Regions from separate parts of the Homo sapiens genome. Here region 1 is linked to region 2. The links come from fine-mapping of genetic effects on gene expression. A gene starts in region 2. The other region holds a variant in brackets. All regions are shown on one strand. Distances are from middle to middle. Region 1 holds the start of LOC105372404 (a long non-coding RNA gene). Region 2 holds the start of CEACAM4 (CEA cell adhesion molecule 4).

Region 1 (5,376 bases), 26 kb after region 2:
TAAAATTCTAATTCCCCAGTGAACTGAAAGGATGGCCTCTTGGCCAAGCGGATCCCAGAGTTCCTGATCATGACAGGATGGGAGGTTACACCTCATTACAGCCCCTCCCTTTGGAAGTTTAGAGGTGACAACTGACTAGCATTAACGCTAAAATCGAGATCATGAGACTGACAGAACAGACTCTCTGTGGCCATAAGATACCAAATTATAAACTCAACCTAAGGTCATGCAGGCAAGGGCTAAGCCACACTTTCCTACATTTAAAGAATAAGCTATGTTCTAACACAGAATTTTCTTTCTCTCTAGCGGCTAAAGTAACACTAGCCTTCGAGATAAGCAATATTGAAATGATCGCGGCTCATCCACCAACACTGGCTAACTGACCCCTGTTCCAACAGCCACAACTACACTTCAATTGGACAGGAGACTGATTTCAGTAACTTTCTCCTAATAAGAGACCACTGAGCATGGCCTGGTTCTGCTGGTATACAGACACGGTGCACTGAGTACCATAATGCTTGTTTCATCTTTTGATGTATAAGACCTAACTTAATACATTTAAATCTGAATTCTCCACCCCAAAGTGAACATGGGGTGCATGTAGCATGCATGTTTGTTGATCACGCATGTGCGTGTACTTCCTTTGTGAGTATCCATAGCTCCACCTATAACCTGTTGAATATGTATACCTGGCCAACTCATTCAGCATAAATCTATCTTCCACATTCCCCTCCCTTGAAGTGCCTGCTATTGGTCTCTGCTGGAGGCTGCATCTTCTACCCTGGGGAATGGCCAGCCTGCAGGCTGTAACCCTGTGTAAGAAATAACCTGGTTGGGTGCAGTGGCTCACACCTGTAATCCCAGTGGTTTGGGAGGTTGAAGTGGTAGAATAGTTTGAGCTCAGGAGCCAGAGACTAGCCTGGGCAGCATAGCAAGATCCTGTCTCTTAAAAAAATTTTAGGGAGGAGAGTGAGGATCAGAAAAAATACCTATTGGCTATTATGCTTAGTACTTGGATCATGAAATAATCTGTATACCAAACCCCTGATTACATATATAACAAACCTGCATGCGTATCTTTGAACCTAAGATAAAAGTTTGTTTTAAAAACTATCTGGGTGCAGTGGTGCATGCCTATAGTTCCAGCTACTCGAGACTGAGGTGTGAGGAGTGCTTGAGCTCGGGGGATTGAGGCTGCAGTGAATTATGGTCCCACCTGTGAGTAGCCACTTCACTCAAACCTGGGAGACAGAGCAAGAACCGGTCTCTAAAAAAAAATAAAAATAGAAAAATAAAATGAAAAATATATGAAATAAAGTCTCCTTTCCAAACGTACAGATCTCCGATTTTTCTGCCAACAATGATAAATGGTCAGTGGCTTGCCATGTTGTCTGTGAATTACTTTTAAAATATTCACGATCACCTGACCTAAAGGTTGGTACCAAGGAACCGCCTGAATACACCGTCTCTGATTATTTGCCTCCAACAGAGTGTTCCCTGGGCCTGATCTCTGGTGGACAATGAGCTGCTGGGAACATCCTCTCTTCTCTATTCCTCCCCTGGGGATGCTGACCTTCCCTTGGAGTCTCCTAAGTTCCCCAGGGCAGTCGGCTAATGTCCTAGGGAGCTTACCTGTCTTCTCCATACCAAGTCTCATGTGAAGGACGAGGCTTTGCCCTTGCCCAGATGAGGCTCTGGGGGCTGAGCCCTGGCTGGCTACCAGCTGCAAGAGCCATGGCCCTTGGACAGCTGGTAAATCCTTGTTCCCAGTCAGCCCTGCCCAAGATGCCTCAACCCAGCCCCGGCACAGGCTTCCCAGGGTCACATGGAGTCAGGATCCTGGGACAGGGGACTGGACAGGGGTTTCCAGGGCTGAGTTTCTGAACAGGGGCTTCCCAGGGGTCCCCTCACTCCAGGATCTGACATGGTCCTACAAGGAACGTCCATGGGGAGGGGACCCAGGAGGGGGAACTGACACTGACCTCCCCTTACTGAGCCTCCCCCCAACCCCATCAGACTGTCCTTCCTCTGTAGCAAGTGCCTGCAGGGTCTGGATGCAGGAAAGAAATTCTGATCTGTGGAAGTTTGTCTCCCCTGTGTGTGTCTTGCACTAAATGTCCAAACCCCCAAATGGGATGTAATGTAGAGGGGGACACAGGCACAGCCCAGGCCTGAAAATCCTGTGTGTGTGAAGCAGAACTGACCCCCAACACCCAGAGCTCATGAGACATCACTGTGTACGTGAAACTGGCCAGTTACTTCTTCATTCACAAGATCTGTTTTTATGACTTGTAGGGTGTAGGATCCTGTGTCATTGTTGGTGACATTCTG[T/G]ATCAGCAGACATGTATTGGGGTATATTGTCTCTCAGCCTCTGTGGCAGGTCCTGGGGTAATTACTTGAGTTCCTAGTACATATCCTGTAATTCCCCTTTGTACCAGTTGTAGCCAAGCCTAAGGCAGATTGTGGGTGAGTGGAAGAATCTCCTTGCCTTCTGCAGCTTCAACAGTGACTTGGGCAGTGGTAGGCAAGTTCCAGAAAGTTAAAAGTGAGGCTAGGAGTGGGGAGAGAGCATCAGTTAATACTGGGCCCTATGCATTGAGGTGGAAAGATGGGGCCCTAGGTCCTGGACAGGTCTCTTCATCCCTCAGCCTTGGAGTGTGTGTGTGTGTGTGTGTGTGTGTGTGTGTGTGTGTGTGCGCGCGCGCGCGCGCGTGCGTGTCCTACTGGGCCAAGGTCAGCAGCATGACCTCCCTTCCTTCAGTGCCTCTGACCTTGGCATTTCCCTGTTTGGAGTCCTTTTCCCCAGGGGTCTGCCTGGCTCCCTCCCTACTGCCTTCAGGTCCTGCTCACATTAGGGCATCCTTGGGAGACCCCTTCCCTGACACCTCTAGAGACCCTGGGTCTTCCCTTTCTGACATTTCGCTGCTGTGTTCCCTCCAGGGCTCTTGTCAATACTTGACCTCACATTCTAGATACCCTTGCATGTCTGTCTTCCTCCCTATGAGAGCATGAGCTCTGTGAGAACAGGGACTTGTGTGATCTTGGTTGCACCCCAGTGCCTGGGACAGGCTGCGGACTCCTGTGGATGAGCTCATGAGTGTTCCCAGGGCCCTTCACAACGTGGGATTTATTTTCCAATGGCTGAGGTTGTTGGCTAAGAGCTCTGTTGGAGTTCAATCAGGCTGGTGGGAAAAATATTAGAGATAGTTATAGAGATAGACACAAATCTTCTTGGAAGACCAAAAACTTTGCATAACTTTGGTAATAGATCTGACTGAAGGTGGTCCCTTTACCTTTAGTTAAACAAATTAAAGTAGTAACAAAGGAAGGCAGAGTAGTTTGTCTAGCCAGCTTGTTTACTCATGTGATCTTAAGACTAACCATTGATGTGCCACAGGTGCTTAATTGCTTTCTACTTGGGAAGTCCACAATGTCAATTACCCTCTAACGGTGTTGACTCAAGCCTTTGTTAATTAATCTTACTGAATAAATATGAGTCTCACTAGCTGATCAAGGCCATGGTCACAACTGTTTATAGGACTCAGCAGGGAGTCTGTAAGCGGCCCTGACAGACTCAGCTGGACTGGCAAAGCAAAATATGTGTGTGTCAGTGTACACTATTCACCCGTCCCCCACAGCTGGTGCCCCTATATGAGGAGTGCTGCCACAGAGCTCTGTTTAGTGTCCCTTGTTTTTTTTCTTGAGTATTACCCCAACTTAAATTGTGATTATTGTCATCTGTTTTCAACATTAACTGCTCAGTGATGATTCACTTGGAAAACATTAACAATCGAGATTGTTTCTTCACTAACAACCTCAGATTATTTAGATTTTCCTGTTGTAATCCCTTCTTCCTGTTTAGTGTCCAACAGAAGCCCTCTGTCCCTCTCAGGTCCCCGTTCTCTCCAAGAAACCCCAGCCAGTCTCTGTGCTCCCTCCTCCCATCCACTCCCAGGGAGCCCTCCCCTCACCTGTGAGCAGAAGCGCCTGCCAGGGATGTGCACTCTGTGAGGAGGGGCTGAGGGAGGCCCCATGGGCTCTGCTGTCTGCTTTGTCCTCCTCTGTGGAGAGGAGCTTGGGCTTCAGAAAATAAGGAGGCCAGAAAGTAAGGAACAGGCTGAGAAATAATGGGGATGTGTCGAAAGGTCACAGATGCCAACATCTTTGTCCTATGCAATATTATCCATAAAATTACAGGTTTGAGATATGCTTAAATTTTCTTCTAACATGCATTAAAATAAACATATAACTTTTAATAGTTATATTAAATTGTATTTAATATAAATTAAATGCTCTTGTCAGAGCTACTGTGACTGTCAGCTCTGCTGTCCTTCCTCTCTCTGTGCTAAGCCTCCTCCCAGGGCAGAAGCACTTCCCAGGGCCAGGGGTGGGGGCGGGGAAAGGTAAGTGGCAATGAGGATCTGCACAGGTAGCCTTTCCGCCTCCTCCCCTCTCAGTCCTGCCTCCTTGTCTTCTTTTCCTCTTTTTCTCCAATCTACATTTCAGTTCCTTAGACCACGCTGTGAGAAGCAAGGCTTATTGGGACCCCCATCCCTTAACAGGATGACCTGTGCTCCCCATAAGTGACCTCTGCTGTGTCTAGGGATTGGCTCTGTCAGCACCTCACAGAGAGTCCCTGGGACCCCCAAACTCAGTGTTATTTTCTCTATGACACAGAAACCCCTCTGGGTATGCAAGGTTTTCCTCATGTTTTCTAATGTCTGGGAAGGTTGGATTTACTCCCAGCAGGGAGGTCACAGAGATGTCCAGGGAGTGGGGTCCTAGAAATGGACAAATCTAGAGCTAAAGCCCAGGTCTACGATTTTCAGTTGTTTTTTTCTGCAGTGCTATGTGACCCTAATTTCCTAGGAGTAACTAAAATGCAAACCTCAGACATTTGTAGACATTTTATGATTTTTCTCTACAGCTTGTACCACTGTTATTATTATTTGCTTTATGCTTTTTCCTAAATAAATTTACTTTACAAAACATCCTTGTCCTAGTAGGGTGCAGGGGCTCACGTCTGTGATCTCAGCTGCTTGAGAGGTTGAGGTGGGTGGATTGCTTGAGGACGGGAATTTGAGACAAAACATCTTTGTCCTATGCAATATTATCCATAAAATTACAGGTTTGAGATATGCTTAAATTTTCTTCTAACATGTATTAAAATAAACATATAACTTTTAATCATCATATTAAATTGTATTTAATATAAATTTATATACAATACATTTTTATATAATAAATTATATATATAAATGTATATATAATAGTTTTTCTTTTTTGAGATGGAGTCTGGCTCTGTCTCCCAGGCTGGAGTGCAGTGGCACGATCTCAGCTCACTGCAGCCTCCGCCTTCTGGGTTCAAACGATTCT
Region 2 (5,376 bases):
GTAAGCAATTGAAAATTTAATCCTAAACTCATGTGAAACAGAAAAAAAAAAGATGCTGAAACTGTAGAGGTTTCATTTGTTTATTTGTTTATAAGTTACACTGCCATTAGAAACTGCTTTACCCAAAATATTTCCCCCAGCCTTCATTATATTACCTATAGGGGCAAATAAAGTTTATCCATGTTAACGATTCCAATTTGTCAGAAATACAATTGGATCCAGTTGACTTTAATCAACTAGTGAGTTTGTATTACTATCTCATCACTAAAATTCTAAAATGAAAGCTGTAAGATTTTTATTTGTTTGTGGATATGTGTTTAGGTGTGTTTTTGCATATGTACATGTATTATGGTCTATATTGTGTCTACATGACAAAATCCACCTTAGTTGGCCAGAAACGCCTTAATAAACTCTATTTGCATTTCCTTAGAGAAATGAGCATAAGAACATGGCTTTTACCCTAGTAGCATCGGGAGGGAATTCAGGGTCTTTCTAACAGTGAGGGGCAAACCCAATTCATTCCCTGACATCATTCACTGACATTCCCTCCAGGCTCTAACATATGTCTTTCTCACAAACACACCAAAACTGACACAAACTCCGGATATTCGATCCCAGGTGGATCTTCCACCAGGGCAGAATGACCACAAGAAAGTCAGGGAGTGATTCCCCAGCCTCGAGATCCCCAGTATTTGGGACATCTGCCTATGGTCCCTGCAGACATTTCACCAGGGGATCCAGGGGAACTTCTCCTGCAGGAGGGGACAGGATAACCCAGGATCTGCCTTTGTTTCCATCTCAGAGGGACTGAGGGTCACGGGGCCTCCCCTGCTCTAATACAGGAACCAGGTATCCCTTGCAGCCTGCAGGTAGGAGCTGCCCCAGCTCCTGGGCCCTGTGGAGAGGCCTGGGGCAGGTGACAGACAGGGACACAGATGACCTGGAGGCGGAACTCCCAGTGTTGTGATGGAGGAACACAGAACACACCGAGGACCACCTCCCAGGCCAGTGCCCTCTCTCTAAACCCCCAGAGACACCTCCCTGGGCCCTTCTTTTGAAACCTTGGGGACGGATGGCTCTTTCTGAGGCAGCCCATCCGCCTGCAGGACAGTTCTCCCAAATCAGGACCAGGAGTGCTCTGGACAACTCTCGTCCTCTCCCTGAGCTCATCCTGCACTGCATGGAGTTGGACATCCTGGGGACCCACAGTGAACAGGACCAAGGATGACCTGACCCTGCAGTCTGGAGGTCAGAGCCCACCTCTGCCCAGGGGCCAGGGCCAACTCATACCACGTGGACCCTGGTCAGCATCCCTGGGGAAGCCCCTGACTTTTACCACAGGGTTCCTCTTGCTCTCCAGGGGCAACATTGCACGCAGACAACACAGGAAATGGATTCCCCTGGACAGGAATCTGGCTTTGCTAAGGAGGTGGAGGTGAAGCCTGGTTTCCATACTTTGCTCCAGCAGGCCCTTCCAGTCCCTCCCATGTGCCTGCTCTGTCTCTCCTGATCCTTCCTGGAGCCTCTGAGGATCCTGCTCTGCCAGGATTCTCTGCTCAGTTCTCCACTTTCTCCTGGTATCATGCATGGGGAAGGTACAGTGACAACAGGACAATCACCTTCACAGAGGACAGAGGCCACCCGGGATGGTAAGGGAGAACATGCACAGGCCCTAAGCCACAGCTCAGCCAACAGAAACGGAGAGGGAGGATCTCCCTGAATCCCTCCTCAAGGACAGCAGAACCCAGAGCCACCCACCTCCCTCCACCACAGTCCTCTCTTCCCAGGACATGCAGGACACCTCCCTCCACATCCAGGAGCTGGGGATCCTCCTGAGACCCCCAGGCCTGGATCTCTGTCCCTGGGTCAGAGGCAAGGCTGGTGACACTGGAGAGAGAGGACTGGTCCCCCCCGTAGTCGCCCCCCATTTTCTATCCCACAGAGCCACCTCTGTCACCTTCCTGCTGGGTATCATCTCACACTCCCTGAGTATTGGGGAGCATGAGGAGACCTGGGGGCCCAGCTGGGTCTCTGTGTCACAAAAGGAAACAGTTCCCCAAGTTTGGGAGACCCCAGAGTACCTCTGTTTGTGGTGACATTCCCAAAGGGTCAGTGCAGGGGTGACAAGTCACCCTCTCTGGGGACAGGGGACTCCACCAACCCTGCTTCTCAAAGTGTGGTTAGGAAACTGTAATGTACACAGAAGAGAAAGGGGAAGGAGGGACAAAAAAGGCAGAAATGAGAGGGGAGGGGCAGAGGGGTGACCTGGGAAGAGCCCCGCCTCTGCCCCTGGCCCTGGGAAGTGCTTCTGCCCGGGAGGAGGCTCAGCACAGAAGGAGGAAGGTCAGCAGCCCCGACAGCCGACAGTCACAGCAGCTCTGACAAGAGCGTTCCTGGAGCCCAGCTCCTCTCCACAGAGGACAAGCAGGCAGCAGAGACCATGGGCCCCCCCTCAGCCGCTCCCCGTGGAGGGCACAGGCCCTGGCAGGGGCTCCTGATCACAGGTGAGGGGAGGACTCTCTGGGAGTGGTGGGAAGAGGGAGCACAGAGACTGACTGGGGTCTCTTGGGTAGGAGGGGATAGAGGGCTTCTGGCTGGGGTCTCCTGGGGCTCTGAGAGGGGACTGAGGGCCTCTGTTGGAGGCTGGATAAGGGAGAGAACATCAGAGAGGGGCAGGGGTCACAACAGGAAAATCTCAGTGAACTGGAATTGGTAAAAGGCAGGAAAATCTCAAGTGTTCTCTCGTCCTGGTTAATCATCACTGGCCACTACATTTTGAAAAATGATAATAACTATACCAGATGACACTTCAAATAAAAACATAACCAGGGCATAAAACACTGCTCTTAGCCAACAACCTCAGACACTGGGAAATAAACCTCAGGACTTGGAGGCCCTGAGAATGCTCATGAACTCATCTACAGGAGTCTGCAGCCTGTGCCAGGCACTGGGGTGCAACCAAGATCACACAAGTCCCCGCCCTCACAGAGCTCACGCTCTCATGGGGAGGAAGACAAACACCTAAAGAGATCTAGAATGTGAGGTCAGGTGCTGACAAGAGCCCTGGAGGGAACAGAGCTGGGAAAGGTCAGAAAGGGAAGACCCAGGGTCTCTAGAGGAGGTGTCAGGGGAGGGGTCTCCCAAAAACACCCTGATGTGAGCAGGATCTGAGGGCAGTGGGGAGGGAGCCGTGCAGACCCCTGGGGAAGAAGATTCCACCAGGGAAATGCCAAGGTCCAAGCTGTTGAAGGAATGGGGGTCATGCTGCTGACCCAGGGACACACACACACACACACACACACACACACACACACACACACACACACACACACACACACACTCCAAGGCTGAGGGATGAGGAGACCTGCTGAGGACCCAGGGCCTTATCTTTCCATCCCACTCCATAGGTCCCAGTATTGACTGATGCTGTCTTCACCTCCTAGCCTCACTTTTAACCTTCTGGCACCCGCCCACCACTGTCCAGTTCACTATTGAAGCCCTGCCGTCCAGTGCTGCAGAGGGAAAGGATGTTCTTCTACTGGCCTGCAATATTTCAGAAACTATTCAAGCCTATTATTGGCACAAGGGGAAAACGGCAGAAGGGAGCCCTCTCATTGCTGGTTATATAACAGACATTCAAGCAAATATCCCAGGGGCCGCATACAGTGGTCGAGAGACAGTATACCCCAATGGATCCCTGCTGTTCCAAAACATCACCCTGGAGGACGCAGGATCCTACACCCTACGAACCATAAATGCCAGTTACGACTCTGACCAAGCAACTGGCCAGCTCCACGTACACCGTGAGTGATTCCCCCATACCTCTGGGTGCTGGCGGTCAGTTCTGCTTCACACACATGAGATTGTCAGGCCTGGGCTGTGCCTGCATCCCCCTCTGCATTTTGTCCCGTGTTGAGATTTGGGCATTTAGTGCAGGACACACACATGGTAGGTAAACTTCAACAGATCAGAATTCCTTTCCTGCATCCAGGCCCTGCAGACACTGATGGCGGGGGCGGGGGGGCCTCAGCAGGGGGAGGTCAGTCTCAGCCAAGCACCCCATGCCCTCCCCATGAACCTGACCCTGAGAAAGACCCTGGAGAACTGGGTCAGGGCCTGGCCTGAGGGCGTCCTGGGAACCTCACAAAAGCCCAGCCTCAGGACTCCTGACTCCGTGTGACCCCGGGAAGCCTGTGTCAGGGCTGGGGTGTGGTCTCCTGGGCAGGGCTTACTGGGAGCAAGGATTTACCAGATGTCTGCGGGCTGTGGTTCCTGAAGCTTCTCATCAGTGAGGGCTCAGCTCCCAGAGTCTCATCTAGACAAGGACAGAGCCTACCACTTTCCCTGGGACTCAGCCTGGAGAGGGCAGGGGGACAGGATTACTAGGGCATTGGCCCCCTGAATGAGGAGCTTAAGAGATGCCCTTGGGCAGTCAGTGGCCCAGGGGTAGGAACAGAGGGGAGAAAATGTTCCTGGCAGCTTCTTGTCCACCGGGGATCATGCCCAGGGGTGCTCTCCCATGGAGGCAAATAACAGATGCTGTTGATGTGAACACCTCCTCTGTGCCAAGCTTCATGTCAGATCCTGTGAATAATTTAAAGTTCATTCACAGACAAAGTGGCAAGCCTCAGACCATTTTCCATTTACATATTGTATGGAGGGGAAACTGAGGCACAGAGAGATACAGACACCGGCCACGGTGGGCAGATCGCAGCTGGCAGAGTCACATGAGGGCTGTCTGCAGCTGCTGCCACGTCCTCTCCTTCATCCCTGGTGCCTTACTAGGTGTCTGTGGACCTCAGAACAGCCACTGGTTCGGATGTTTTCTTCTTAGGTGTCTACAGCTCGGAGGGGGAGATTCTGGTCTGGAGAGTTATGAGTAAATACAGAATTAATCAGTTTTTTCTTAACTAAATCACCTGCCTCAACAATCAGTCAGTGCTGGGGAAGTTCAGGCCTCCTCGCTCAGGTCCACACCCCGCATCTCTGGACATGAAATGGTTTCGTGTGTTTTCTGATGTGTGGGTATCATTCCAACAGGAGGATAAAGGGGAGGACTTTGCTTTCTCTCCCCATTCACACCCTGCACCAGCCAGGGCCCAGTGTGAGACACATACTCCGTAGTTCTCTCATGAAGGAGGGAGGGAATGAATGAAGGAATGATCTATAACCTCTTCAGAGACAGAGACCTGGATACAAGATCCTAGGAGGTTCTGGGCCCAACGTGAGACACACACTCTGTAGTTCTCTTATGAAGGAGGGAGGGATTGAATGTAGGAATGATCTATAACCTCTTCAGAGACAGAGATGTGGATACAAGATCCTAGGAGGTTCTGGCCACACCTGTTTTCTGTCCCTCTAGAGCCTAAGACCCAT

What was found. PIP is the estimated chance that this variant, and not a neighbour inherited with it, causes the effect.
Region 1: its variant is fine-mapped to the expression of CEACAM4 in whole blood (INTERVAL, PIP above 0.99).

What each region holds. Positions count from the first base shown.
Region 1 is chr19:41,598,393-41,603,768 of GRCh38, reverse strand. It overlaps LOC105372404 (a long non-coding RNA gene), which reads right to left and starts at 2,712. Exons shown (of 3, transcript XR_935971.3): 1 at 1,217-2,712. It also overlaps the pseudogene CEACAMP3. The variant T/G (reference allele first, on the strand shown) is at 2,332.
Region 2 is chr19:41,624,028-41,629,403 of GRCh38, reverse strand. CEACAM4 (CEA cell adhesion molecule 4) reads left to right here and starts at 2,330. Exons shown (of 7, transcript NM_001817.4): 1 at 2,330-2,504; 2 at 3,444-3,803. The coding sequence starts at 2,441.